4 linked regions of the Homo sapiens genome follow. The protein of the gene in region 3 interacts with the protein of the main gene of each other region in a biochemical or structural test. Each region holds a gene or a part of one and is shown on either strand. Other genes may lie near its edges. The genes, in order: SMC3, AKT1, MXD1 and RPS6KB1.

The links.
Region 1: the proteins of MXD1 (region 3) and SMC3 form a complex in vitro, tested with the Homo sapiens proteins (one study listed by BioGRID).
Region 2: of the proteins of MXD1 (region 3) and AKT1, one has a biochemical effect on the other in vitro, tested with the Homo sapiens proteins (2 studies listed by BioGRID, with this or other methods).
Region 4: of the proteins of MXD1 (region 3) and RPS6KB1, one has a biochemical effect on the other in vitro, tested with the Homo sapiens proteins (one study listed by BioGRID).

What each region holds. Positions count from the first base shown.
Region 1 is NC_000010.11:110,577,655-110,585,012, reverse strand, and holds part of SMC3 (structural maintenance of chromosomes protein 3), read right to left. Parts: intron 7,179-7,358; coding exon 7,099-7,178; intron 6,386-7,098; coding exon 6,307-6,385; intron 4,110-6,306; coding exon 3,992-4,109; intron 3,091-3,991; coding exon 2,915-3,090; intron 2,452-2,914; coding exon 2,371-2,451; intron 1,630-2,370; coding exon 1,465-1,629; intron 1,173-1,464; coding exon 1,051-1,172; intron 831-1,050; coding exon 617-830; intron 1-616. UniProt on the Homo sapiens protein: Central component of cohesin, a complex required for chromosome cohesion during the cell cycle. The cohesin complex may form a large proteinaceous ring within which sister chromatids can be trapped.
Region 2 is NC_000014.9:104,768,765-104,772,022, reverse strand, and holds the end of AKT1 (RAC-alpha serine/threonine-protein kinase), read left to right. Parts: intron 1-1,175; coding exon 1,176-1,278; intron 1,279-1,602; coding exon 1,603-1,682; 3' UTR 1,683-2,674; downstream 2,675-3,258. UniProt on the Homo sapiens protein: AKT1 is one of 3 closely related serine/threonine-protein kinases (AKT1, AKT2 and AKT3) called the AKT kinase, and which regulate many processes including metabolism, proliferation, cell survival, growth and angiogenesis.
Region 3 is NC_000002.12:69,931,912-69,939,269, reverse strand, and holds part of MXD1 (max dimerization protein 1), read right to left. Parts: intron 6,554-7,358; exon of another isoform or gene 6,077-6,553; intron 3,920-6,076; coding exon 3,805-3,919; intron 2,036-3,804; coding exon 1,876-2,035; intron 1,174-1,875; coding exon 986-1,173; 3' UTR 1-985. UniProt on the Homo sapiens protein: Component of a transcriptional repressor complex together with MAX. In complex with MAX binds to the core DNA sequence 5'-CAC[GA]TG-3'. Antagonizes MYC transcriptional activity by competing with MYC for MAX binding.
Region 4 is NC_000017.11:59,944,836-59,951,147, reverse strand, and holds the end of RPS6KB1 (ribosomal protein S6 kinase beta-1), read right to left. Parts: intron 5,743-6,312; coding exon 5,630-5,742; intron 4,598-5,629; coding exon 4,360-4,597; 3' UTR 3,562-4,359; coding exon of another isoform or gene 3,546-3,561; 3' UTR 574-3,545; downstream 1-573. UniProt on the Homo sapiens protein: Serine/threonine-protein kinase that acts downstream of mTOR signaling in response to growth factors and nutrients to promote cell proliferation, cell growth and cell cycle progression.

The sequences.
Region 1 (7,358 bases), on a different chromosome or scaffold from region 3:
AACAAGCTATTTTAGACATATGTTGTGACATCTTGTTAAATTAAGGGTATGTAAGACACATGCTACCAATTCATAAAAACATATTTTAAGCTGGGCACAGTGGCTCATGCCTCTAATCCCACCACTTTGGGAGGCCAAGGTCGGAGGATTGCTTAAGCCCAAGATTTCGAGACCAGCCTAGGCTACATGGCAAGACCTCGTCTCTACAAAAAAATAAATAAAAATTTTGCTGGGCCTGGTGATACATGCCTGTGGTCCCAGTTAGGAGGCTAAGGATGGAGGATCGCTGAGCCTGGAAGGTGGAGGCTGCAGTGAGTTGTGTTTGTACCACTGCACTCCAGATTGGGTGACAGAACAAGACCCTATCTCAAAAAAATTAAAAATACATACATACATTTTAATATACTTAATCTACATAAAGGCTCAATGACATGAATATTCTTTAAAAAAGAACTATATGTATATTAAACTGTGCAGGCCTTTTCTAAATAAGTATCTGTCATATATTTTAAGAGCAACATGTAGACTTATTTAAAAAGAAAACTTGAAGTAGATAAAACTAAACACATTTATCTCTTCTGAAAGATTTTTACAAAGCAGCTATAGAAGTTCTTACATTATACTGCTCCAGATTTTTCTCTTTATTTGCTTCAGTGTCTTCCAAATCCTTATGTATAGCAGCAATCTGTCTTTTCTTGTCATTAATAGCCTGATCTAAAGACTTGAGTTCCTTTTTAATCCACTTATCCCTTTCTTCTTTTGATGTAAACTGGCTTCCTCGACCCTGCTTTGCATAAAGATCCGTTCTTTCCTGGGTAGCTTGAGCCAATCTACACAAAATAGAAGCAAATGGGATGAAAAGGAGAATAATAACCAAGTTTAATTGCAACCAATAATGTCAACTGCACACAGAAACATAAAGCCATTTTTCAAAAAGATACAAAAAGAATTAAGTGTAAAAAGCAGCTACTATATAATTGAGCTCCTCGGACAACCTAGTTTTACATAATATGATGTAGAAAGTTAAAGTGTTGGTGAAAGTTCTCAGACCTAGCAATTCCTCGTTCTTCTTTCTCTTTCACACTGTTGAATTTGGGTTCTGTTTCTGCCAGTTCTTTCTGCTTTTCTTCTATTTTTTCAAGCAGCTTCTGCCTCTCTTTTAATAAACGTTTCTGTAAACAAAGTAAAAATGCAAACTGCTTTAAATTTTTTGCATAATTTAGGTCTAGCATAAATGTTTTCTCAGGAAAAAAACTTCATGAGAAAACCCACCTGTAACATGAAACTCTTTTTTAATGTAAGAAACAAAGGGACAGTACCAAGTTGTTACTTGAGTACAAATTATGCTAACGTAGCAAAGCTTAAAAAAAAATTCCAACACACACCAGTCACAGAAAGGGCTGTCTTCTACAGTTGCTACTCACCTGAACATTCACATCTTTCATTTTTAGCATTTTAACTTACCCTTTGTTCACTATTGCCTGCTAGTTCATCTTGTAAATCCTTGGCTTTAAGCTCCAACTTAGTCCTCTGCTTAATCTGCTCTTGTCTTTCAGCACTAAGCTGTTCTTTTTCTTCTTTCATAGCTGAAATTTTTGTTTTCAATTCTCTAACTTGGCGTTCGATATCCTATTCAAAAGTATTAAACAGAAAATAAGGCAATTAGAAGTACAATAGCAGAATTGTGACACCATTAATTCTCTTTCACTTAATGTTTAGTAATACTCTGTCCTTTCAATATTCAATTCCTCTAACTCTCCCTTGTGTAATCATTCCATAATTCTGGTACAAAAGGGTTTACTATGGTCAAAAACATACGATGGCTGGACATGGTTGCTCATGCCTGTAAACTCAGCACTTTGGGAGGCCCAGGTGGGAGGACTCCTTGAACCCAGGAGTTCAAAACCAGCCTGGGCAACATACTGAGATTCCATCTCTTCAAAAAATAACAAAAATAGGAGGCTGAGGTGGGAGGATCACTTGAGCTTGAGAGATCAAGGCTGCAGTGAGCTGTGATCTCACCACTGCACTCCAGCCTGTGCAATGGAGTGAGACCCTGTCTTCCAAAAAAAAAAAAAAAACTTCAGGAGGCTGAGGCAGAAGGACCACTTGAGCCCAGGAGTTTGTGACCAGCCTGGGCAACATGGTAAGACCTTGTCTCTACAATATATTTAAAAACTAGACAGGTGTGGTGGTACACACCTGTGCTCCAGCTATTCAGGAAGCTGCGGCAAGAGGATTGCCTGAGCCCAGGAAGTCAAGGCTACAATGAGCCATGATGGCACCACTGTACTCCAGCCTGGATGACAGAACAAGACCCTGTCTCAAAAGTAAAAAGTAAGTTAACATGAACCTTGTTTATAATCTTACCTCCATTTTATCTCTTGCATCCTGCTGAGCATCTCTTAATTGTCTGGATTTTTCTCCACTAGTCTCTCGCTTAGCAGAAAGCTAAGAAAAAAAACAACTTATCATATCTAACTCATTTTGTAATTACTAAATATTTCATAACATCTAATAAAAATTTTTCTATTAAAATAAACCAAAAGTAACTGCTCAAATTTTCTACAAAAATTTTAAAAATGATTTTAAACTAGAAAACTGAAGCACTAAATTTTTGTACAAAATGTGTAGTTTAGGATATACTACAACTACAAGAAGCCTTCAAAATGGCTTTCCTCTCATCTTGTCTGCCTAATACCACCATCTGATTATATTTCAGATAATACTATATAGCAAGGACCACATGGCTAATTTCCTTGAACTAAAAAAACTTGCTGACTAATAAATTCATTGAGAGGTTTTTTTTAAGTTTCTATTTAAAATCACTGAAAAGTGTAATTATGGCCTGAGTTTAACAAATTCATAAAAACAAAATTAATCTGATTTTAAGTGTCACAGGTAAATATTTTACCTCATCAAGTTTGGCACGAGTCTCGTTAAGTTCCTGATTGTAAATGGTATATTCCAGGGCTCGTCTCATTTTATCCCACTTCTGATACTGAGCTAGTTCTTCCTTTTCTTCCTCTAGAGTATGTAATCTCTCTTCAATGTATTTTAACAACTCATTGATTTTTTCCCGTTTGCCCTCTTAAAAGAAATGGGGAGAGAGGTGGAAGAATTGAATAAGATTTTTATGTAATATCACTTCTTAAATATACCTTGAATTAAATTATTTTTAAGAACTGTAGCATTATTTCTTTGATGTGATGTGGTAACCCAATTTAAAATACTAAAATAGCAATTAACCCATTTATGCCAGAGGTTGCAAATTTTTTTCTGTGAAAAATCAGACCTTGGCAATGACCTTGAGCAGTAGAATATAAGTAACATCCACAAGCTTAGGATTCCAATAATGGAATGCTAGGCATAAATGGGTTAAGATCCTTTATTATGAAAAGCACCAGAGAACAAATTTACACATGGTGACACTGGTTCTTTTATAACATGTAGTAAGGGCCTCAGTTTAAGCTTCCTTTTAAAAAGTCAGTGTGCCGGCCAGGCGCAGTGGCTCATGAGTAATCCCAGCACTTTGAGAGGCCAAGGCAGGTGGATCATCTGAAGTCAGGAGTTCGAGATCAGCCTGGACAACATGGTGAAACCCTGTCTCTACTAAAAATACAAAAATTAACTGAGTATGGTGGTGGGCACCTGTAATCCCAGCTACTCAGGGAGGCTGAGGCAGGAGAATCACTTGAACCCGGGAGGCAGAGGTTGCAATAAGCAGAGATCGCGCCACTGCACTCCAGCCTGGGTGACAGAGCAAGACTCCATCTCAAAAAAAAAAAAAAAAAAAGTCAGTGTGCGTTTCCACAATATTTTTAAAAGCTACTAACATCATTGGTGTTATGGATTCTCAATTTTTATTAATAACAGCATTATCTAATGCTGTCATATACTAAACACCTACTATATTCCCATCATGGAGCCACTCTGTCACAAAAACAGTAATTTGCAACAAAAAAATAAGGCAGAATCACATTTATTTTACCTGTTTCTTTCATTAAGGAGATGCTTTCTTCCTTTCGTTCGTCATACACTCTAGTACCAGCTACTTCTCTTAATAGCTTTAATCTCTGAGAATCTGGTGCTGTTGCCATCTGGTTGATCTAAAATTTTTAGAAAAATAATCATTACATAGCTGTAGCCTCCGTTTAAGAAGAAGAACTCCACGTTGAAAGGTTTTTAATACACATGAAGGTTGGGTATCCCTTATGCAAAATGGTTAGAAACCAGAAGTGTTACAGATTTTAGATTTTTTCAAGTTTTGGAATATTTGCATTTATACTTACCAGATGAGCAACCCAAATCCAAAAATTTGAAATCCAAAATGTTCCAACAAGCATTTCCTTTGAATGTCATGTCCACACTCGAAAGGTTTCAGATTGTAGAGCATTCTGTATTTCAGACTTTTGAATTTGGGACATGCCAAGTTTTAAACAGATTATGATTTGGCTAATGTCATTTGTATAGTACGCATGCCTACATATCTATGTCTCCTTTACTTAAATGAAATTTACCAAATAAAATCCAAATACAACTGTTACGGTCATAACTCTCCTTTATGAATAGGGCTAACAAGTGAAGGAGTATCTCACACCACCATCTTTTTCTTAGTCAATATGATAAGGTATAAAAGATGAGCTCCATTCTCAAAAAACAAAGTATTTTTATAAGGGAAAACCATCACTGACTACACTTTTTTTTAAAGCTACAATAATATATTAAAAGTCAATTCTTCCTCAGTTTCCATGGGGATTGGTTCTAGGACCCCCTGCAGGTACCAAAATCCAAGGATGCTCAAGTCCCTTATATAAAATGGCATAGTATTTGCATATAACCTATGCACATCCTTCCATATACTTTAATATCTAGATTAATTATAATAATACAATGTAAATGCTATGTAAATAGTTTTACTGTATTTTTAAATTTGTATTATTTCTTATTGTACTGTTTTAAAATTTTATTTATTTTAAATATTTTTGATCCATGGTTGGCTGAACTTGCAGATGTGGAACCTACAGATACAGAAGGCTAATGATATGACAAAAATGGTATGCTTTAAATATAGAGAGAATGGTACAACTTAAGTGCCATGCAACTTAATATATAACAAGTATCCCTAAATGTCAAAAATGATATCACTGCATTAAAAAATTGAAATTATCTCTACGAAAATAGGTCTATCAAAAGTATCTACATCAAAGAATCATCCTTCAGATCCTCATTATTGAACGCTCCAATTATACATATTGGTTCATGCAATTTCCTCACTTAAAAATTATTTTTCAAATGGCTACAACATATGTGCCACTGCTGGGCACTGGAAAAGAGCAAACAAAGCAGAAAAGGTCCCACCCTCATGGAGCTTACATTCTAATGGAAAAAGACAGAAAATAAGTACTATCCTAACAGTGTAAGTGTTATGAAGAAAAATAAAACAGATTAAGGAAATAAAGCACATAGGGTTGAGGGGACGGCAATGCTTTCAGATGAGGCAATCAAGGATGGCATACGGGCAGAAACTGAAATGAAGTAAAAGGGCCTAGATTGACAGCAGACGGATCTCAGAAAAGTGCTCTTTCAAATCAGCCTCCATTTAAAAAAATTTATCTCCCACAAATAGTTAAATCGGAAAAAAACGTGTTCTTCCAGTAACACATTTTCTAAAACTGAAACTCCATATTCTTCCTAATCACTTCTTCTAAATGCTAACTTTCCAATACATATCTAGAAAAAAAGGCCTACAGTATAAAATAAGTGAATATTCTTTGAGAATTTTCCCTAGTCCAAAAAAAAAGTGAAAGTATATGAGAAGAGAGCAGAACAATCAGCTAAAAAAGTTTGTAGTTTGGCTGCTGAAAAAATGTAAAAACATAATCCCTATTAGGGAAAATAACATGTGGCAAAATGGCAGATTTCTGGTAATGTTAGCTTTTCAGTATTTTAATTGTGATAAATAATTAGGTAACACAAAATATTAATTTTAGAAAGTTTTTCAAATGTGATTTTTATAGAATTCCTACAATATTCTTAATTATTGCAACATTCATAAGCCAATAATGTCTTCCCATACTTTCACCTCAGTAAGTAATACCAGTCACTAGGAAAACAAGATCCACTTAATATGCTGAAATACTTCCATCTCAACATGCAATGGACCTATTTGGTACTTTATGGCCATGTAAAAGAATATGGCCATTTTTGCTTCAGCTTAACCACTCAAATCAATAAACCAAATTCATCACTCAAGAATTACTCAGAAAACAAATTCTACTTAAAAAGGACATACAATTGTTTTACCTTTCCTTGTTTAACAATATAATAAGGATTGCTTCGAGAAAAACCAGCGCTTTCAAGGAGGTTCATCACATCATTTTTCCTGTTGACAAACAATGAAATTACTTTCCGATAAATAATTTTAAAGCACCATTAAGCAATGAGTAGAGTAGCCCCTTGGTTGATAGCATTAGGGAGGAAAGATCAGTAATTAAACCATCTGTATCATCCTCAGAACTTTCTGATTCTTATGTTTATCCTCTATATGTTGACTTGTTGAAGATGAAGCAAATATTCCTCATATATGAAGCAGGTAAAAGAATACTTTTTACTCTTTTGTAAGGAAATCATAAAATTGCGGGCTGGGCGCAGTGGCTCATGCCTCTAATCCCAGCACTTTGGGAGGCCAAGGCAGGCAGATCACAAGGTCAAGAGTTCGAGACCAGCCTGCCAACATGGTGAAACCCCGTCTCTACTAAGAATACAAAAAGTAGCCGGGTGTGGTGGTGACTGCCTGCAATCCCAGCTACTCAGAAGGCTGAGGCAGCAGAATAGCTTGAACCCGGGAGGTGGAGGTTGCAGTGAGCCGAGACTGCGCCACTGCACTCCAGCCTGGGCGACAGAGCAAGACTCCGTATTGAGAAAAAGAAAAATGCTGGCTGGGCGTGGTGGCTCATGTCTGTAATCCTAGCACTTTAGGAAGCCGAGGTGGATCATTTGAGGCCAAGAGTTCGAGACCAACCTGGCCAACACAGCAATACCCCATCTCTATTTAAGTACATATTCAGTTTTTTTAAAAAAAAGAAAAATGCTTACGTGACCATCTTCTTGTCTAAGAAATACTGATCCTTTTTGGCACCAATAACTCTTCGAAGTGAAACTTCCTCTTTATCGATCTAAGAAAAAATGTAAAAGCCCACAGTTAATTTAATAGTAAAGGAGAAAACTTTTTAAATAAGGTCATTTTAAAGTCCTTGCCCATAAGTATTTATTTTAAAATTTCAATTATCTCACTAAAAATAATACTACAAATACTCAATACTCTTAACCAAGACACTTTTCACAACAGTTTGTAC
Region 2 (3,258 bases), on a different chromosome or scaffold from region 3:
GGTGGTGGACCAGGGGTGCTGCCCCTTGGCCTCCACGAGTTCCTCCTGTTTGACCTCAATCCCTTCTGCCGCAAGGAGAGCCCAGCCCTATTTCTGGCTGTGCAGGGACAGGGACAGCACCTACTTTTCTGGCACATGGGGGAGTCCGCCCTGGAGGGAGGCAGCTCTTTCTGCATGAGTCGCCATCCTGGGTGCTCATCTTTCAGGGACCCTAGGAGCCCTGGCCATCACCCCAGCTGATGGGGTCTGCCAGCTGGGTTCGGAAGCCTGCACTCTGAGATGCTGGGTGCCCTGTCACCAGGTGTGCTTCTGCCCCGTTCCCAGCCTGCCCCTCCCCTGAATGCCTGTCCTAGGCTGTGTGCAGCTGGTCGGGCTGGGCAGCCCTGGGACCCAGCTGGGCACCTGTTCTCCCATTAACACAGGGTGCCCTGGTCCTGGTCCCCGTTCCTGCCTTGAGGCCTGCCACCCTCCTGCCCTGCCCTCCAAGGGTATGGGGGGCCTGGGCAGTGCTCAACCTCTGCCCAGCCTTGACCAGAGACCTTGCTAATTGACAATGGACAATGCTGGTGCCCAGCCCAGACTCTGGGGTGGGGCAGTGCTTGAGGGGGTCCTTGACTGTGGGACCTGAGGGGCTCTCTGGCAGCTCCTCACGTGTGCACATCACCTTATAGTCACCCTTCATCCTGGGTCATTGAGAGTCCTGTCTGCAGCCAGATGCCAGCAGGCTGTGGTCCTGTAGTCCCTGAGCCATGGAGGCAGGGTGGGCTCATCCTGTGCACCTTGTTCCACAGTCTCCCTCTTTCCCAATTTACAAGAAGACCAATAAGAAAAATAAGAAAACAAGAAAGAAAAAGGAAAAATAAAGTTATCACCTCCTGGTAGCAGGGAGGGTCTCTCAGAGCTGGGCTGCACTACCTCCTGTCGCCTGCTGGGGCTGCTGTGAGGGCAGCTTTGCGTCTCAGCTGTTGAGGGTTGTCTCCGTGCTCCTGCACCCCTCATGTCCCTCCCTCCCAGAGCTGCCTCTGTGGGGGGCTGGTGGCTTGCTGCTCTCTGACATCAGTCCTGCCTGGAGACCCCTTGGAGATCCAGGTGCTTTGAAGGTCTTGAGCACACTTGAGGGTGTGCTGGGAGTGGGGAGCGAAGCTCATGACTGTCCCGTCTGCCCACCTCTGCAGCTCAGCCCACCCTTCAAGCCCCAGGTCACGTCGGAGACTGACACCAGGTATTTTGATGAGGAGTTCACGGCCCAGATGATCACCATCACACCACCTGACCAAGGTGAGGGGCCACTGCCTGCCCCCGCCCACTCCCTTTTCTCTCCACACTCAGAGAGGCCTGCAGTGTTCAGCTTTTTTGGCTTCAGATGTTTTAAAATCTAAATATTTAAAAAGGTTCCTTTTGGAGAGTGCCAATGATCAGGGTGGGAGGCAGTGCTCTGAGGGCCCAGGTCCCTGTGTCAATCTGTGGGGCCCTGTCTCAGTTTCCTGGCAGTATGGCAGCGTGCTGGCCGTGCTTTAAGAGGTTGGCTTCCTACTGGAGCTGTGGGTGGGTGGAGGTGGCAGGGAGGTGGGGCACCGGGGTCTGAGCTGTCTACACCCACAGATGACAGCATGGAGTGTGTGGACAGCGAGCGCAGGCCCCACTTCCCCCAGTTCTCCTACTCGGCCAGCGGCACGGCCTGAGGCGGCGGTGGACTGCGCTGGACGATAGCTTGGAGGGATGGAGAGGCGGCCTCGTGCCATGATCTGTATTTAATGGTTTTTATTTCTCGGGTGCATTTGAGAGAAGCCACGCTGTCCTCTCGAGCCCAGATGGAAAGACGTTTTTGTGCTGTGGGCAGCACCCTCCCCCGCAGCGGGGTAGGGAAGAAAACTATCCTGCGGGTTTTAATTTATTTCATCCAGTTTGTTCTCCGGGTGTGGCCTCAGCCCTCAGAACAATCCGATTCACGTAGGGAAATGTTAAGGACTTCTGCAGCTATGCGCAATGTGGCATTGGGGGGCCGGGCAGGTCCTGCCCATGTGTCCCCTCACTCTGTCAGCCAGCCGCCCTGGGCTGTCTGTCACCAGCTATCTGTCATCTCTCTGGGGCCCTGGGCCTCAGTTCAACCTGGTGGCACCAGATGCAACCTCACTATGGTATGCTGGCCAGCACCCTCTCCTGGGGGTGGCAGGCACACAGCAGCCCCCCAGCACTAAGGCCGTGTCTCTGAGGACGTCATCGGAGGCTGGGCCCCTGGGATGGGACCAGGGATGGGGGATGGGCCAGGGTTTACCCAGTGGGACAGAGGAGCAAGGTTTAAATTTGTTATTGTGTATTATGTTGTTCAAATGCATTTTGGGGGTTTTTAATCTTTGTGACAGGAAAGCCCTCCCCCTTCCCCTTCTGTGTCACAGTTCTTGGTGACTGTCCCACCGGGAGCCTCCCCCTCAGATGATCTCTCCACGGTAGCACTTGACCTTTTCGACGCTTAACCTTTCCGCTGTCGCCCCAGGCCCTCCCTGACTCCCTGTGGGGGTGGCCATCCCTGGGCCCCTCCACGCCTCCTGGCCAGACGCTGCCGCTGCCGCTGCACCACGGCGTTTTTTTACAACATTCAACTTTAGTATTTTTACTATTATAATATAATATGGAACCTTCCCTCCAAATTCTTCAATAAAAGTTGCTTTTCAAATTTTTGGCTCACTTTGCTGGGTGGAAGAGTGGGTGGCCAGGGAGGGAGTGGGGAGTCCTGGGAGGGAAGCAGCATCCTCAGAGCAGCTGGTCCTCCCCAGCTCCTCCTGGTGGGCACCGCCACCCCAACAGGTTTGGGGACAGGCTGTGTGGTGGGCCGAGGCGGGAGTATACAGGCCTGTTCCCAGGGGCAGCCTCCCATGGAAGGTGTTCCACCCCCATCTCCAGAGGCCTGGCCTGAGGGGAGATGGGAGGCCCTGGCTGGCCCTGCCCCCGTTGGGATCCACCTCTTCTTCCCTTGACCCCACCCAGCTTCACCCCAGCCATGAAGGAGACCATTGGACCACGTGGCCATCTGCCCCCCAGCCCCAGGTGCTGTTCCCCTGGGTAGGGCAGTGAATGAGACAGACCACCAGGAAGGACAGATAGGGCAGGGCCCAGAGTTGGGGCCAAGGTCATGGCCTGGGCCACGGTGGAAGTAAGGCTGGGAGGCCTGAGTGGCCTGTTCGAAGCTGGACAGAGCGGGAGGAGGGGCTGCAGGCGGTGGGAGGAGGGGCTGCAGGGGGCGGGAGGGGACAGGCTGGG
Region 3 (7,358 bases):
AATGTGGACTTTTTCTTTCACTGATAATGGCTACTAGCTCTGCTAGTGCCACAGCTCAGTTATTGCTGAAAGTTCAATAGGAAAATAGATTATAATTGGACCAAATGTCACTATTTTGGGGGGGGAAAAAAGGATAATCACTGTGTTAAGTGGGAAATGGAGATCTCATTTATCTCTGAGGTAGGAAAAAAAAATGTTCCAGAGACAAGTAGCATTAACAAAGTTGGAGGGGAGAATGTGCCTCGAGATAGCAGAACACAGCGAGGTCCCAAGAACATCGCACAAAAATAGATTGTACCGTTTTGTTTGTGAGAACAAACAATTTGGAACTTTGATGAGCTGTGCAACCCCAGAGACACACTATCAAGGTGTCCATTTTAAAGTGAGAAATACTGCTCCCATCCACACGCGGCGCGTCGGGGGAATGAGCATGCGCGGTGTGAAGGGCGTGTTTTCTAGAGGTATTCCTGACTTCCTCACTGGTGGTGAGGTCCATGGTTAAGTGCTCTTAAATGCTGCTTTCAAAGCTTACTTTGGAGTTCTGAGATCAGGATCTCAATTTCAAAAGTTTGTTTCCTTCAGTTTCCTAAGTACAAGACACACTTGGACATTCCTCCTAGGCAAGTAACACAGTAAGCCAGAAAACTGGAAGAAAGGTCTGGGAGAGGACACGAGGAGAGCAAAGAGGGGGATTGCTGAGATGTGGACATTGCTTATTCGGTCTAAGAATTCTTGGATGCTTCAAATTGATTGGAATGTATAGTCTCTCAGAGACAAATTTTTATGGCGAGAAAAAGAGAAGCTAGTGGATGCAATCAGAAACCCACAATCCTAAGCACCTCCTTGAAAACAGTTACAAAGCTGATTTTGGTCAAGGTGGGACACTGAAGTTTACGTGCAAGGGAGTTGTGGGCAGGTCCAATACGTTACCTAATCAGAACCAACAGGGAGAACCTTCAAGGAGACAGCCGCAGTGCCCACTCTCTTAGAGACCAAGACACGCCTTGTGACTGTCCTGCAGCTTTATTCTCTTGATGCTGGTGCTGGAATAGCCCTCATCACTGCCGAGGCTCTGCATGCTGCCCCGCTCGTCAGAGTCGCTCACACTGCTGCTGCTCCAGTCCAGATCACCTGTGAGATAGTCCGTGCTCTCCACGTCAACGTCGATTTCTTCTGCAGGGAGGACAAGAGAGAAGGACATTGATGAAAGCGCTCTGCAGAAAGCTCAGGCGTGGTGGCTCATGCTTGTAATCCCAGCACTTTGGGAGGCAAAGGCGGGTGGATCACTTGAGGTTAGGAGTTTGAGACCAGCTGGGCCAACACAGTGAAACCCTGTTTCTACTAATACAAAAATTTGGCTGGGTGTGGTGGCTCACGCCTGTAATCCCAGCACTTTGGGAGGCCAAGGTGGGTGAATTACTTGAGGTCAGGAGTTCGAGACCAGCCTGGCCAATATGGTGAAACCTCATCTCTACAAAAATAGGAAAATTTGCCAGGCATTGTGGTGTGTGCCTGTAATCCCAGCTGCTTGGGAGGCTTAGGCAGGGGAATCGCTTGAACCCGGGAGGCGGAGGTTGCAGTGAGCCAAGATCACACCACTGCACTCCAGCCTGGGTGACAGAGCAAGATTCCGTCTCAAAACAAAACAAAACAAACTAGGCTGAAAACTGACACCAATCAAACTCTTCTGGGGTTGTCACCTAAGTGTTAGCAGGGAGAAGGAACCTGTCACTGGAGGTCACACTGTTCGACTTCTCTACATCATACCCAGTGTCTTAGTTCTTCTTACACTCTGCCTCCTGTCCGCAGTACTGAACCCCTGCTCTGGGGTTGGGGAGCACAAGGGAGACAGGGAGGAGAGTGAGAGAGGCTCACCCCTGTCGGAGTCGGAGCGCTCCGAGGAGACGGTGGAGCCGATGCTGTCCATCCGGATCCTCTCAATGCCCAGCTTCTCCAGCTGCCTCTTCAGGTGTCGCTGCTCTCGCTGAAGCTGGTCGATTTGGTGAACGGCTTTTCTGTCACAATCTTCAAGTTTCTGCAAGTCAAAGGGGTAGTTGTTGGGCCCCACAGGGAGATCTCTAAATGGGCAATGGCCCCCGCATCTTCCCTTCTAGCAGTGGAATGCGCCACACTTCCTCAGACGCCTTTCGGTGCCACTCATCAAGCTTCTCCCTGAGACAGGAAGTCGACTGGCCAGTGACTCCTGGCTTCGTCTGACTCTTCAGCATCGCCAGTGCTGGGGGTACTTGTCCTGTCACAGGGATTCTGGGGGTGAGCTCTCACATACTGGCACCCTGGTAGCCCTCAGTTTTAGTATCAGAAAGACTGCAGGCAGCAGTCCCCAACCTGATCTCCCTTGTTTGCAGCAATCCCCTGAACACCTGATCTCCGGACTAGAAAACTGCACTTGATGGGAGCTTAAGAAACACGCTTCCATTTAAAACTATGTTTATTCAAGTACATGTCCCAATTACATAAGCACTTTTTTGTGTCATGCCAAATCTCAATTAACTTCTGTTTGTTAGCAGGAAATAATAGTCCCTTTTGATGTCCTGATTCTAATTTGTCCAACAGAAGAGTTTAGAAAACACATTTCCATAGAATACTCATTTTTATAAATCTGCCCCCAGCTTCTCATATTCTTCAGATAATTAAGAAGATTGTTTAATTGTAGCTGTTTTGCTTTAAATAGAGGTTTTCTCCCAGAATTGTCATGAATGCAGGCTTCTAACCATAATTAAAGTAACATTTGTCCAACTATAATATGATTATACAAACATGCTAAACAGGGATTTTGGCTGTGGCTCTCAAGACTTTGAATCCAATTCCCCTTACCCTTTGCTATTCAGGTAGCAAAGAGAGTGTCAACTCTGTGCCCGATACCCTAGGAGGTGCTGGGGCTGTGAGGTGAGCACAAAGACCCAGTCCCCTCCCTCGTGGGGTGTATAGTCTAAGGATTGAGACAACACAATGGTCACACAAACCACTGTCAAATGTCAGTTATGACAGGGCTAAGAGATACCCAGTGATGGGACCACCTGTCACAGGAAGGAGGTCACTGAGTTGGGAAAGTCAGCGAAGGATTATCAGAGCTAGAGAGACTTGCACTGTGATCTGAAGAATAAGTAGAAGTCCTCTAGGTGAAGAAGAGAGAGGAAAGTGTACCAAGCAGAGGGAAGAGCATTGACAAAGGCCCTAAAGTAAGACAATATGACAGTGCCAGGGACTGGAAGAAGGGCTGGAGAAAGGGGAATTGGGGAACAAGATGGTGCTGCAGAGGCAAGTGAGGACCAGGCAAGGCAGAATCTGGGGCAGACCAGGTGACAGAGCTTGTCCTGAGCCACAGAAGAATTTTAAACAAGGTCACGTGTTGATTTGCACCTTGGAAGGACTGTTCTCAGGAAGCATGGAAAGCAGACGGGAGGGACCCAGAGGGATATAGGGAGACCTCTGAGGATTTTATTGCAGTAGACAGTGGGGATGAAGATGGAAGTAGACCGGTTGCAAAATATTTAGGCCTTGGAGATGGCCTAGATATATGGTTAAGGAGCAGGAGCTATCACGGACTCCTGAATTTCTGGCTTGTACAACTGGATGGAGAGTTGGATGGACCATTTAACCTCTGGTGCATGGGAGTGAGAAACACTCAGTTGGGTTTTGAATATGTTGCATTTGAGGTACCTGTGATTCATCCAATAGCTAGACTGGAGGAGTTCAGGGGAGAGGACTGTCCTGGAGATGTAACAACAGACAAACCCTCACTGAACAGGTAAAGATAAAGCAGCATCCCAACAATACACTTACCTTTATGTGCAATTTGGCTTTTGTTAATAAACTCAACGTAGTGTGTCGACTTGATTCGGGTCCAAGTGGCACCAGCCCCTTCAACTTCTCCAGGCACAAGCGAAGATGAGCCCGTCTATGAAAACAAGACCACAGTAGCATTTGAGAGTTTCACAGTGGGCCAGAAGCACCCCAGGCAGAATGAGTTCTCAAAGAGTGTGAAGTTGCCCAGGCCTTGCGATGGCAAATGCTACCAATGACCTTTTGCTGAATAAACATATTTTGAACCAGACAACTCTGGTGAAAACCAATGAGAAGCAAAATCCAAGGTTTTCGAAGCTAAGTCTATTGATAATACAAGTGCTGGGGTAGGGAATAATATCTGCTATTATATAGTCATTCACATGTGTAAATACTATATACAGTAATGGTCCCTGACTCATGATGGTTCAACTTACAATTTTTTAAATTTATAATGAGTTTATTGAAGTATTAAATGCATATTAGACTTGGGATGTTTTTTATTTATGATGGGCTTCTTGAGACATAACCCCATCATAAGTCAAGGAGCATATATATCTGTGGAGTTATTTGTTGAAGCTTTATTTGTAATAGCAAAGATTGAAACAACCCAAATGACCACCCAGGAGGGAACTGGTTAAATAAATTATGCTACATCCACACCGTGTAGTACTATGTAGCTATCAAAAAGAATGAGAATGTGCTTTATGTCCTATTAGGAAAGATTTTCCAGATATATTGTTAAGTGGAGAAAAGCAAGATTCCAAACTGTGAGTATACCATGCTATCTTAAAGATGGAGGAAAACAAGAATCTATATTCATGTTTTCTTGTATGTAGACAAACTCTGGAATGACACATAAGAAACTGGCTGGGCAGGGAGAAGGCAAGGAACAGTCAGACAGAGATAAGGAAGGAAGTGATGGGGGTTTTTACTGAGTCATTTTTTATACTTTTTGTTCTTGGAGTATGTCAGACTGATGCAATGGCACGGAGTGGGAGAGGGAGAAGGGCTGGATGAAGCAGCAGCCACGGCAACTGACTGAAGAGAGAGCACGAGAGTTGCTCCAACTGAGAAATTTACATTTCCTTGAAATGGTTTGTGCTTTATTCTAGAACCTGGAAAATTCTATGAATGTAAGAAGCAGCTGAGATTTGGGGGTTTTGCTTAAGCTTACCACCTCCTTAAAGCCTTCCCAAGCCATCCTAGCTCACAGTGATTCCTCTATTTTCTAAGCACCACTTAACTGTTTATATTATTCACTGGGAAGTTCACTGTACTGCCTGACTTGTTTCATATTTCTTACTTAACCATTCATTGCAGTCTCCTTAGAAAGTCAGGATTGCAGCTTAATCATTGCTGTGCTGTCACCGTGCCTCAAACACACACATGCTTAATAAGTGTTTGCTGAATGGATTATGTCATCTATTCAACTAGACTTTAAGCTTCTAGAGGACAGAGTCCATCTCTACTGCATCTTTGCACCTTCAGCAGTGCTCAGAGTCTTCAGGTTTTAGATAACATTCATTGCCCACACACAACCTACTTGGAGCAGAGTTCCCTGGGGTCTAGGAGGCTCCCCTCCAGCTGAATTGGGAAACAATGCAATGCCTTATAGGTTTGCCCTTTTTCCTCTTAAGAATTGTACTGTAATAGCAAAAGTTGAAAATATAGACCAAAGAAAGGAAATGGCTTCAGAAAGCTATAGGACAGGTGAATATGCATGATATTAATGTAAGAAGTCAATTCACACTCTCCAGGGAGACTTCAGGATGTTCCCCTAAGGCAGGGCTAGTAAGCAAGGCATTAGACTTCCTTCCTTCTGAGCCTCCTGCCTCTTCTAGGTCATGAGGAAGTTGTCCTAAACTCTCCAAGGGTGCTCTAAGGCTTGGCAAGCTTGGGGAGTACAGCATTCATTTCTGAGCTAGGAAGAGGTAATAGCACAAGGGCTTTACTATTTTGTAAGTCTTTCACTTCTTCTGAAAAACCTGTCCATGTGGCAGAGTCAGAGCAAAGACTCATGTTACAGGTGTGCTCCTCCCACTACTGCATGTGGTGGGGACCAGGGAAGGGAAGAAAACTTGTATGTAAAATATACTTGTTCATCTTGGATAATATTCTTCAAAAAGAGCCATGAAAATAGATCATGTTATTAGAAACACTATGAGAAAGTATAATTTATACATTTATAAATTTGTCTATTTCTTGCCATAAAACTTATAGACTAATTTTCTTTTTTTGTTTTTTTTTTTTTTTTTTTTTTTTGAGACAGAGTTCTTGCTCTTGTCGCCCAGGCTGGAGTACAGTGCCGTGATCTCAGCTCATGGCAACCTCTGCCTCCCAGGCTCAACAGATTCTCCTTCTTCAGCCTCCTGAGTATCTGGGATTACAGGCGCCCGCCACCACGTCCGGCTAATTTTTGTATTTTTAGCAGAGATGGGGTTTCACCATGTTGGCCAGGCTGGTCTCGAACTCCTGACCTCAAGCAATCTGCCTGCCTCAGCCTCCCAAAGTGCTGGGATTACAGGTATGAGCTAATTTTCCAATTAGAAGAAAAAGTTCAAAAATTAAAATTATATTTAGATATTTTTCAGCCAGCTTGTTATTTGCAAAGACTGCATGATTCAGAACAGTGTCATTTTAGTACTTTTATGATGTTGGTTTATATGCAGATATGAGTGTGTGAATTTTTTTAGGAAGTTTGTCCACTGATAAAAATATAATAAAGTCATCTTTTGATGCATTGTCATTTCTAGCCTTATAGGAGTCTTGCCCAGAAAGTGCAATTTTCACTACCCAAATGTGGGTTTCCAAAGAACACTCCTAGTCGTGAAACTAGAAATAAGCCATTTGACTAATTCCAGCTGAGACTAATACTTGTTCATTCAGTGTTTTCTGGCCTAGTTCTACAAAAATAGGACCAGAATTCTTTCTGGATTTTTGCAGAGACCCAAAGCCAACTCTGTCTTTGGCAGTGTCTGCCTTGGCCTTCTCCGGCGCCTCACTGCTGCAGCCTGATGGCTGCCCCCTGCCCACATGCCACTGCCTGCAGACATCCCCACACTGGTGCCCGGGCCAACCACAGGAGAGCAATGAAATATATTAAGTAGACTCAGTTCTATCATACAGTAGTGAAATCCAATCCCTGAACCAGATAAAAAAGCAAACAGACCCCTCTGTTATGTACAGCTCCTACCAAAGCTCTCCAACCCTGACACACACACACATACACAGACACACATACAGACACACAAACTCCTGGGATCTAGAATCCCTCTGCCAGCCCTGAGTACCCACGGAGCTCCCAGATCCAAAACAAGCAGAACAAACACCCGTCTCAGCTCTCTTTTCTCAGTTCTGACTACTCCTGTGCCCTGCTGTCCCATTTTAAACCAGGTCAAACTCCCATTTGGGGAACTAGCAGGGGTTTTGCCATATATCCTCAACAGGAAGCCACCCGACACCTCAGTGTGACCCAGGAAGTTGACTCTCCTCCCATCACATCTTCTTCAGTCTTCCCTCTGTTGCCAAGAGCTACCTCCCATCTTCCTGGC
Region 4 (6,312 bases), on a different chromosome or scaffold from region 3:
TAAAAATGCTGATGAACTGGAAGCATTTCTTCCATCCCTCTATTCCTTCACCTCAAAAACAGGTAATGTAGATTCAGAAACTCATTTACTCTGTGAATTCAGATCATGGCTTCTAAAAGATTGTTTTACCAGTATTGATAGGCTACTATGTTGTATAGCAAGGTAAGATCAGTTTGAGAGCTTCTGTAGAGAAATCCCCTTGGCAAGTGTGGTATAATTACCTCACAGAAAAGAAGTGGTTAATGCAAAATACCCAGCTTACACTAGATATATTGAGACATTAGTTAAAACACATTTGTTCACTACGTTATTTTGTGCATACATATCAAATTATCAAATGTAGCTGACCAAGTGTAGCTGAACAGATTGTTGATTGTTAGCACAAGAAGGTCTTCCTAGAGTTTTTTATGAAGCTAGCTTTCACGTAGATTGTTACATGTATTTTTTTAAGTAAACAATTCATATCTACTATCTGACATAACTTGAAAATCAAAGATGTGTAACATCTAACTTAAAAATCAATACTAAAACTTGTTATATACTTAAATAGCTTCAGTTTCTCAGCAGAACAGCTTTTAACCCATTCCTTACATACATAGTTTATTTATATGACAACTTGAACACATCTGACATGTTAAAATAAATTTAAACCATTTATACACCTGATACGTATACTAATTCCTTCCTATCTTTAAGATAATAAAAAAATAAATCACTTCTATTTATGTTCATTCAAATTTGCATTTAATTTCTATTTACATTCATTCAATCCGAAATCAAATAATACAGTCAACTAAATACAAGATGAAAAGCAGAACAGGTGTTACCCTCATAGCACTCCTAATAAGGCAGCTGAAGAATTTTATTTACTGATAGATGCAAAGCGAACTTGGGATAGGAGAAACAATAGTTTAAAGAGCAAACACAAACATAGATGAACCCATCTTTCAGATGTTATTCCGGATAATCCACTGAGATAATACTTGTGCTATAATGTTAAGAATCACACAAGAAAAAGTACTGTATTAATCAGCAACAGACCACAGGTTATGTGTGACAAATACTTTTGTGATAGTTTGTCCAGCTTGCTAGTGTCTACTCCTATGAAAAAAGGTAGATGTTTGGACATTGATGTTTTTGAGAAATTAACCATTTTCAAAGCCTTAAAATCTATTCTTCATAAATTCAACATTTCTCATGGGAATAATCTTAGATCTAGCCCTTGTAAGCTAGGAACCATATGATTAACTGAATATTCAAAATAGGTCCTATATTAAATATATAATCCAAGGCTCAGTATATTAATACTATCTAAGATGCATCTTGTTTATAATCATTCATTACCTATAGTAAAGAATGTTGAATTTATGGAGTATCATACATGCATCCTCCACCCCTGCCCACAAATTATCTTCTATCTTAAAAAATAGTATGGAAAAATCCTTCTTGAAGGATTCAAATTAGTTAAGACCATAAAGGGGGAAAAAGAACATAATTTTCCTAAAAATCTGGTTCAAAGTTCAATAATTAATACTTTACATTGTTAATCACAGCTGGTTTATAAATCCCAGTTTAGTTATTCTGTAATGCTACAAACCTTATAAAATCAAATTAGTAAACTTCAGTGATTATATTTTAATTAAAAAACAGCATGTATAAAATAAAAAAATATCCTGTAATAGCTGATTTTAAAGAAAATAATCAAGTGATGAAAAAAAAGCACTTAATCTCTTTTATACACTTACCTGGTATAACATAAAGAACCCTCTTAGAAACTCAAGACTAGTAATATCGACATCATATTTTAAACTATGCTTGGATTTTTACAAATAAATATAGATAAGCCATATTGCATAGGTGTGTGCTTTCTGTCTGTGACACTAATGTGACACTTGACATGTTTTCACAGTCATAGTAGGGATATCCATTTATGAAACAAGTTCTCAATAAACTTTCCACAGCATGGGAAATAAATTTCACTTAATAAATGTGAAGTCAGAAAAACTATGTATTTGTGTGGATGGTAGCTGTGCAATTAATGCTTTTTATGCAGAAAAGTTGCAGTGTTTGCCACTATTGCTGGCACTACTAATTATGAAAATGGTTTAACTGGGGTGGTTATAGCCAGCCAATCACAGTGCTCATGTTACTAGCAAATAGGACCTAGGAAGAATATTTTGGTGTATAAGTTTCACTGGAATTTGGTCAGGCAGTCAACACTACAGTTAGTAAACATATTTGAAAACAAGTATCAAGAGTATCACAAGCCATTTACAGTCTGAAATAATGCCTGTACATATCACCATAGCTTTTCGGGTTCTGTTTTTTCAGACATCACAAATTGTCAAAGAACAAGGATCTGCACTTTTTAAGTATAATTTCTGCCCTTAATTATTATTGTAGCTTCTAATTTACCAGCAACAGTCAAAGTTCTCAGTAGGCTGCTGCAATAAGGGAGGAGGGGGAAGAGGGAGTGATTTTTTTTTTAAAGGCTTTCTGTCCAAAGATGAACTTTTATCGATTCTTTCAATTATTGCCACAATTGAAAAGGTGTATGTCCAATCATTTTTCATGGTTCTGTTTTTGCTTACTGTCATAGGATTTCATCCCATCTCATTTGAGTTGCAATTTCAAAAAGCAAAGCCTTGCTCTTTTCTGACTGAATTCAACATGCATAAAGAATTTTATGGCTTGGATCCTATGGCTCAAAAAGGTTTGAAAACATAGCAAGCAGCATCTATTTAAAAAAATCCTAGGGTTGCAAAATATTACAAATTGACTTTGCACACTCAGACTGAAGACATTATAAAAGACAAACAAAAAAGGTGATACAACTCAACTGCAACTGCATGATCATCTATTATACCAGTATGCACTGAAATATATTTTTATAAAGCTCTGCAGATATTAAACCCTTTCACCAGCTAAAGTCATGGAAATGCTCTCTTTAAGGCAGGAAATATTTAAGAAAGGTAAAGTTACCTTTATTTTTATTCTTTTAACCTGTAAATCATTTATGTAGATTTTGTTACAATTTCAAAAACATAGTGTCCTGTTAACATGTTTCCTAAATTAAGCCACTAAGTTTTCTTTACTGTGGAAGACATTCATCAAAAGGCCATCAAATATTTTTACAATCAAAAAATGTAGCCCAAGTATAGGAGAAAAAAAAATAGACCTTTTTTTCTTTTTAAAACTGTTGAGGAAAAAAATATAAGGAAGGTAGACAGCAGAAACAGTAGAAAGAAGTAAAACTGAAAATCTTACCAATTTGCTGTAAAGAGATTAGACAGAGAGTGGGCCACAGCAACACCCTCTTCCCCTGGATATCCCTATCTCCCTCACCTTGCCGACCACAGTATGTATTTTTTATCCTGACTCTCTTCTGTTGTTCTTCAGCCATGGGCTGAAGACATTTGGTGTCTTGAACCAAATACTGGTGTAAGAACAGGTGGCGATTTTTTTTTCCAGTGCAATGCAGGCCCGGGACAATGATGAAATGTAGGACATACAACTTATGCCCATTCCAAGGCTTCCAGTTAAGCTTAGCACATAGCAGTACTGCAAGTAGAAATGATTAAATAGATTCATTTTTTTTTTCTCATATTACAGACAGGTATTGCAGCTGGGTTACTGAAAATAAACCCCAGGTCCACCCCAATCCCTCAAACGAGCCACAGCTGTGGTTAACAATGATTCATTTGCATTTTATTATTTCACCAAGAGAAGAAACAGAAGTTGTCTGGCTTTCTTCACACCAACCAATAATTTCGCATTTTAAAGTTTGGGATGTTTTTCATAATGAGCTGAATCAAAAATCTATTTGAAAAATATATATTTATATAAAAAAAAGATTCAGGTTGTTTGCACGTAAAACATCAATTGGTAAGTTTCTTTTGTCTTTGCTTCCATTTTGCTGGAAAAAGTTTGACCAAGCTTGCATGCTAATTTGTCCTTAGTTGCAAGTATTATAGGCAATTTTGTACTTTGCCTAATGAAAGGATAACCCTTCTTCAACACAATCAGAACTCAACAGTGATTCAGAAGCAACATCCTACCCTTAATACTGTCAGTTTCGAGTCATCAACATGAAAATCCTTGATAAGGTTGAGAAGATGTCGCGAGGAATCAATTAATTGATGTGCCTAAGAGTTCAGCAATACTATTTTGCTTTAAGTTTTTTTTTGCACCATTGATTGATTTTTTAAAATCCACGTTTATTTTTCCTGTGTCTGAAGTGTTCTATGTAATGACATTGACTCTCTGAAACTGTCATTTTGAGTCGTTTCACCTTGCAGGATGCTCACACATCTCCCTCTCCACCTTTTTTGCCTTAAATTCATTAAAAGCATTGCTCTGTCATAGATTCATACGCAGGTGCTCTGGCCGTTTGGAGATCATGGGAAAAGCTTGTTTTTTGTATGGCCCAGAGTTCGGCTGTCGTATTGGAAGTGGTGCCGATGCTTCCCCACTCATTGTCACATCCATCTGCTCTATGCCACTTGTTTCCATTGGGTATTCCACAGGTGTCTGAGGATTTGCTGTGCTGGCCGAAGCACCTCTTCCCCAGAAATCCCCAGGAGAAAATTTGACTGGGCTTTAAGACAAGGAAGAGCTATCATTCATTTGCTTAAGGGTCATCTCAACAAGACATATTTCCTTTACGTTTAAAGGGAGTGGGGTAACATGACATTTATTTTCATTTAATTTTATTTTCACGTGGATTAGCACAAAGGCAAAAATTGAACCATCTCTCCCCCACCTAGATTAACTGCTAGAATTTCCTAACTGGTCTCTTTACCTCTACACCTGACCCCCAAAACCCTCAATGAGATATATATACATTTAAATGCGTATTATATATATCATTTTACTCTCCCCTGCTCAAAACAGCTTTCTATTGCATTTAAAATAAAATACTTTTCCAAACCTCTGCCCTTCTCCTCACTCACCACACACTCCAGGAACACTGATTTCCCTTTCACTTCCAGGAAAAGGGCAACTTTTCTCCTCCCTCAGGGTTTTTGCATTTGCTGTTCTTCTGCCTGCAACATTCTTATACCTCCTATTTTTGTAGGGCTGGCTCTTTCCGTTCACTGCTAGATGTTACTACACCAGGGAGGCCTTTCTCTGATCACTGTGAGTAGAAGCCCCCTTGTTTTTCCTCTGCTCTCTACCAGTACATTCTTTTTTTCCCCTTTTAAATTATAGCACTTTGCACTACTTGTAATTATATTTTTGTATATCCTTTGTCTATTGTGACTTTCCCACTAAATTGTAAGCTTCATCAGGACAGGGACAATTCCTGTATTATAGTACTATATAGATACACACACATAACATGCAGTATGTAGTGCTGGTGCTCTTGGTGCACAATAAATGCTGAGTGAATGGATAAAGAGGACATTTGCCAGTATGGCTGCTTACTTTTGGGAGGGAAGGTAAACCATATAACATCATAGATTAGTCAGACTAGTCCTTTGCAATGTAAGATATAGATGCTGTGCTTATGTCAACCAAAGAGAGTATGACAGTCTTTCATTTATATAACTTGGCATAAACTTCTTAAGCAAACACTCTTGTAGGTTGTTTAAAAACAAAAAAAAGTGAAAATAAGAGTGTGAAATACCTGACAGGTGTTCGTGGGCTGCCAATAAATCTTCGAGGTGATCGGATTTTTGGTTCAAAGGAAAACTTTTCTTTCACACTTTCAAGTACAGATGGAGCCACATATGTAAAACCCTGAAAGACAGTAACAGTGGACTACAGAATGGCATTTTGTCATGTATCTCAAGAGAATGGGGTTGTTCAGTCTGACATACCTACACAATGATGCACACCTAAAACCACCAATGTGTACACTCTCCCACGTCCTCAACCTCATTTTTAGACCCGTTAACTTCTTTCCAGCCATTTCGTGAGGCACACACTTCAAGAAAGCAGAATTCCATTGAGCCTGATATGCTAGCAAACAAAATTCTACCCTACTGACAGGAATAGAAAAAAAAACAGGAAAATTCAGGCTCCATATGAAGATGTTAAATACGCCCAGGCACGGGGGCTCACGCCTGTCATCCCAGCACTTTGGGAGGCCAAGGCGGGCAGACCACCTGAGGTCAGGAGTTAAAGACCAGCCTGGCCAATGTGGTGAAACACCGTCTCTACTAAAAATACAAAAATACACCACCATGCATGGTGGTGCACGCCTGTAATCCCAGCTACTCGGGAGGCTGAGGCAGGAGGATCACTTGAACCTGGTAGGTGGAGGTTGCAGTGAGCAGAGATCGCACCACTGCATTCTAGCCTGGGCAA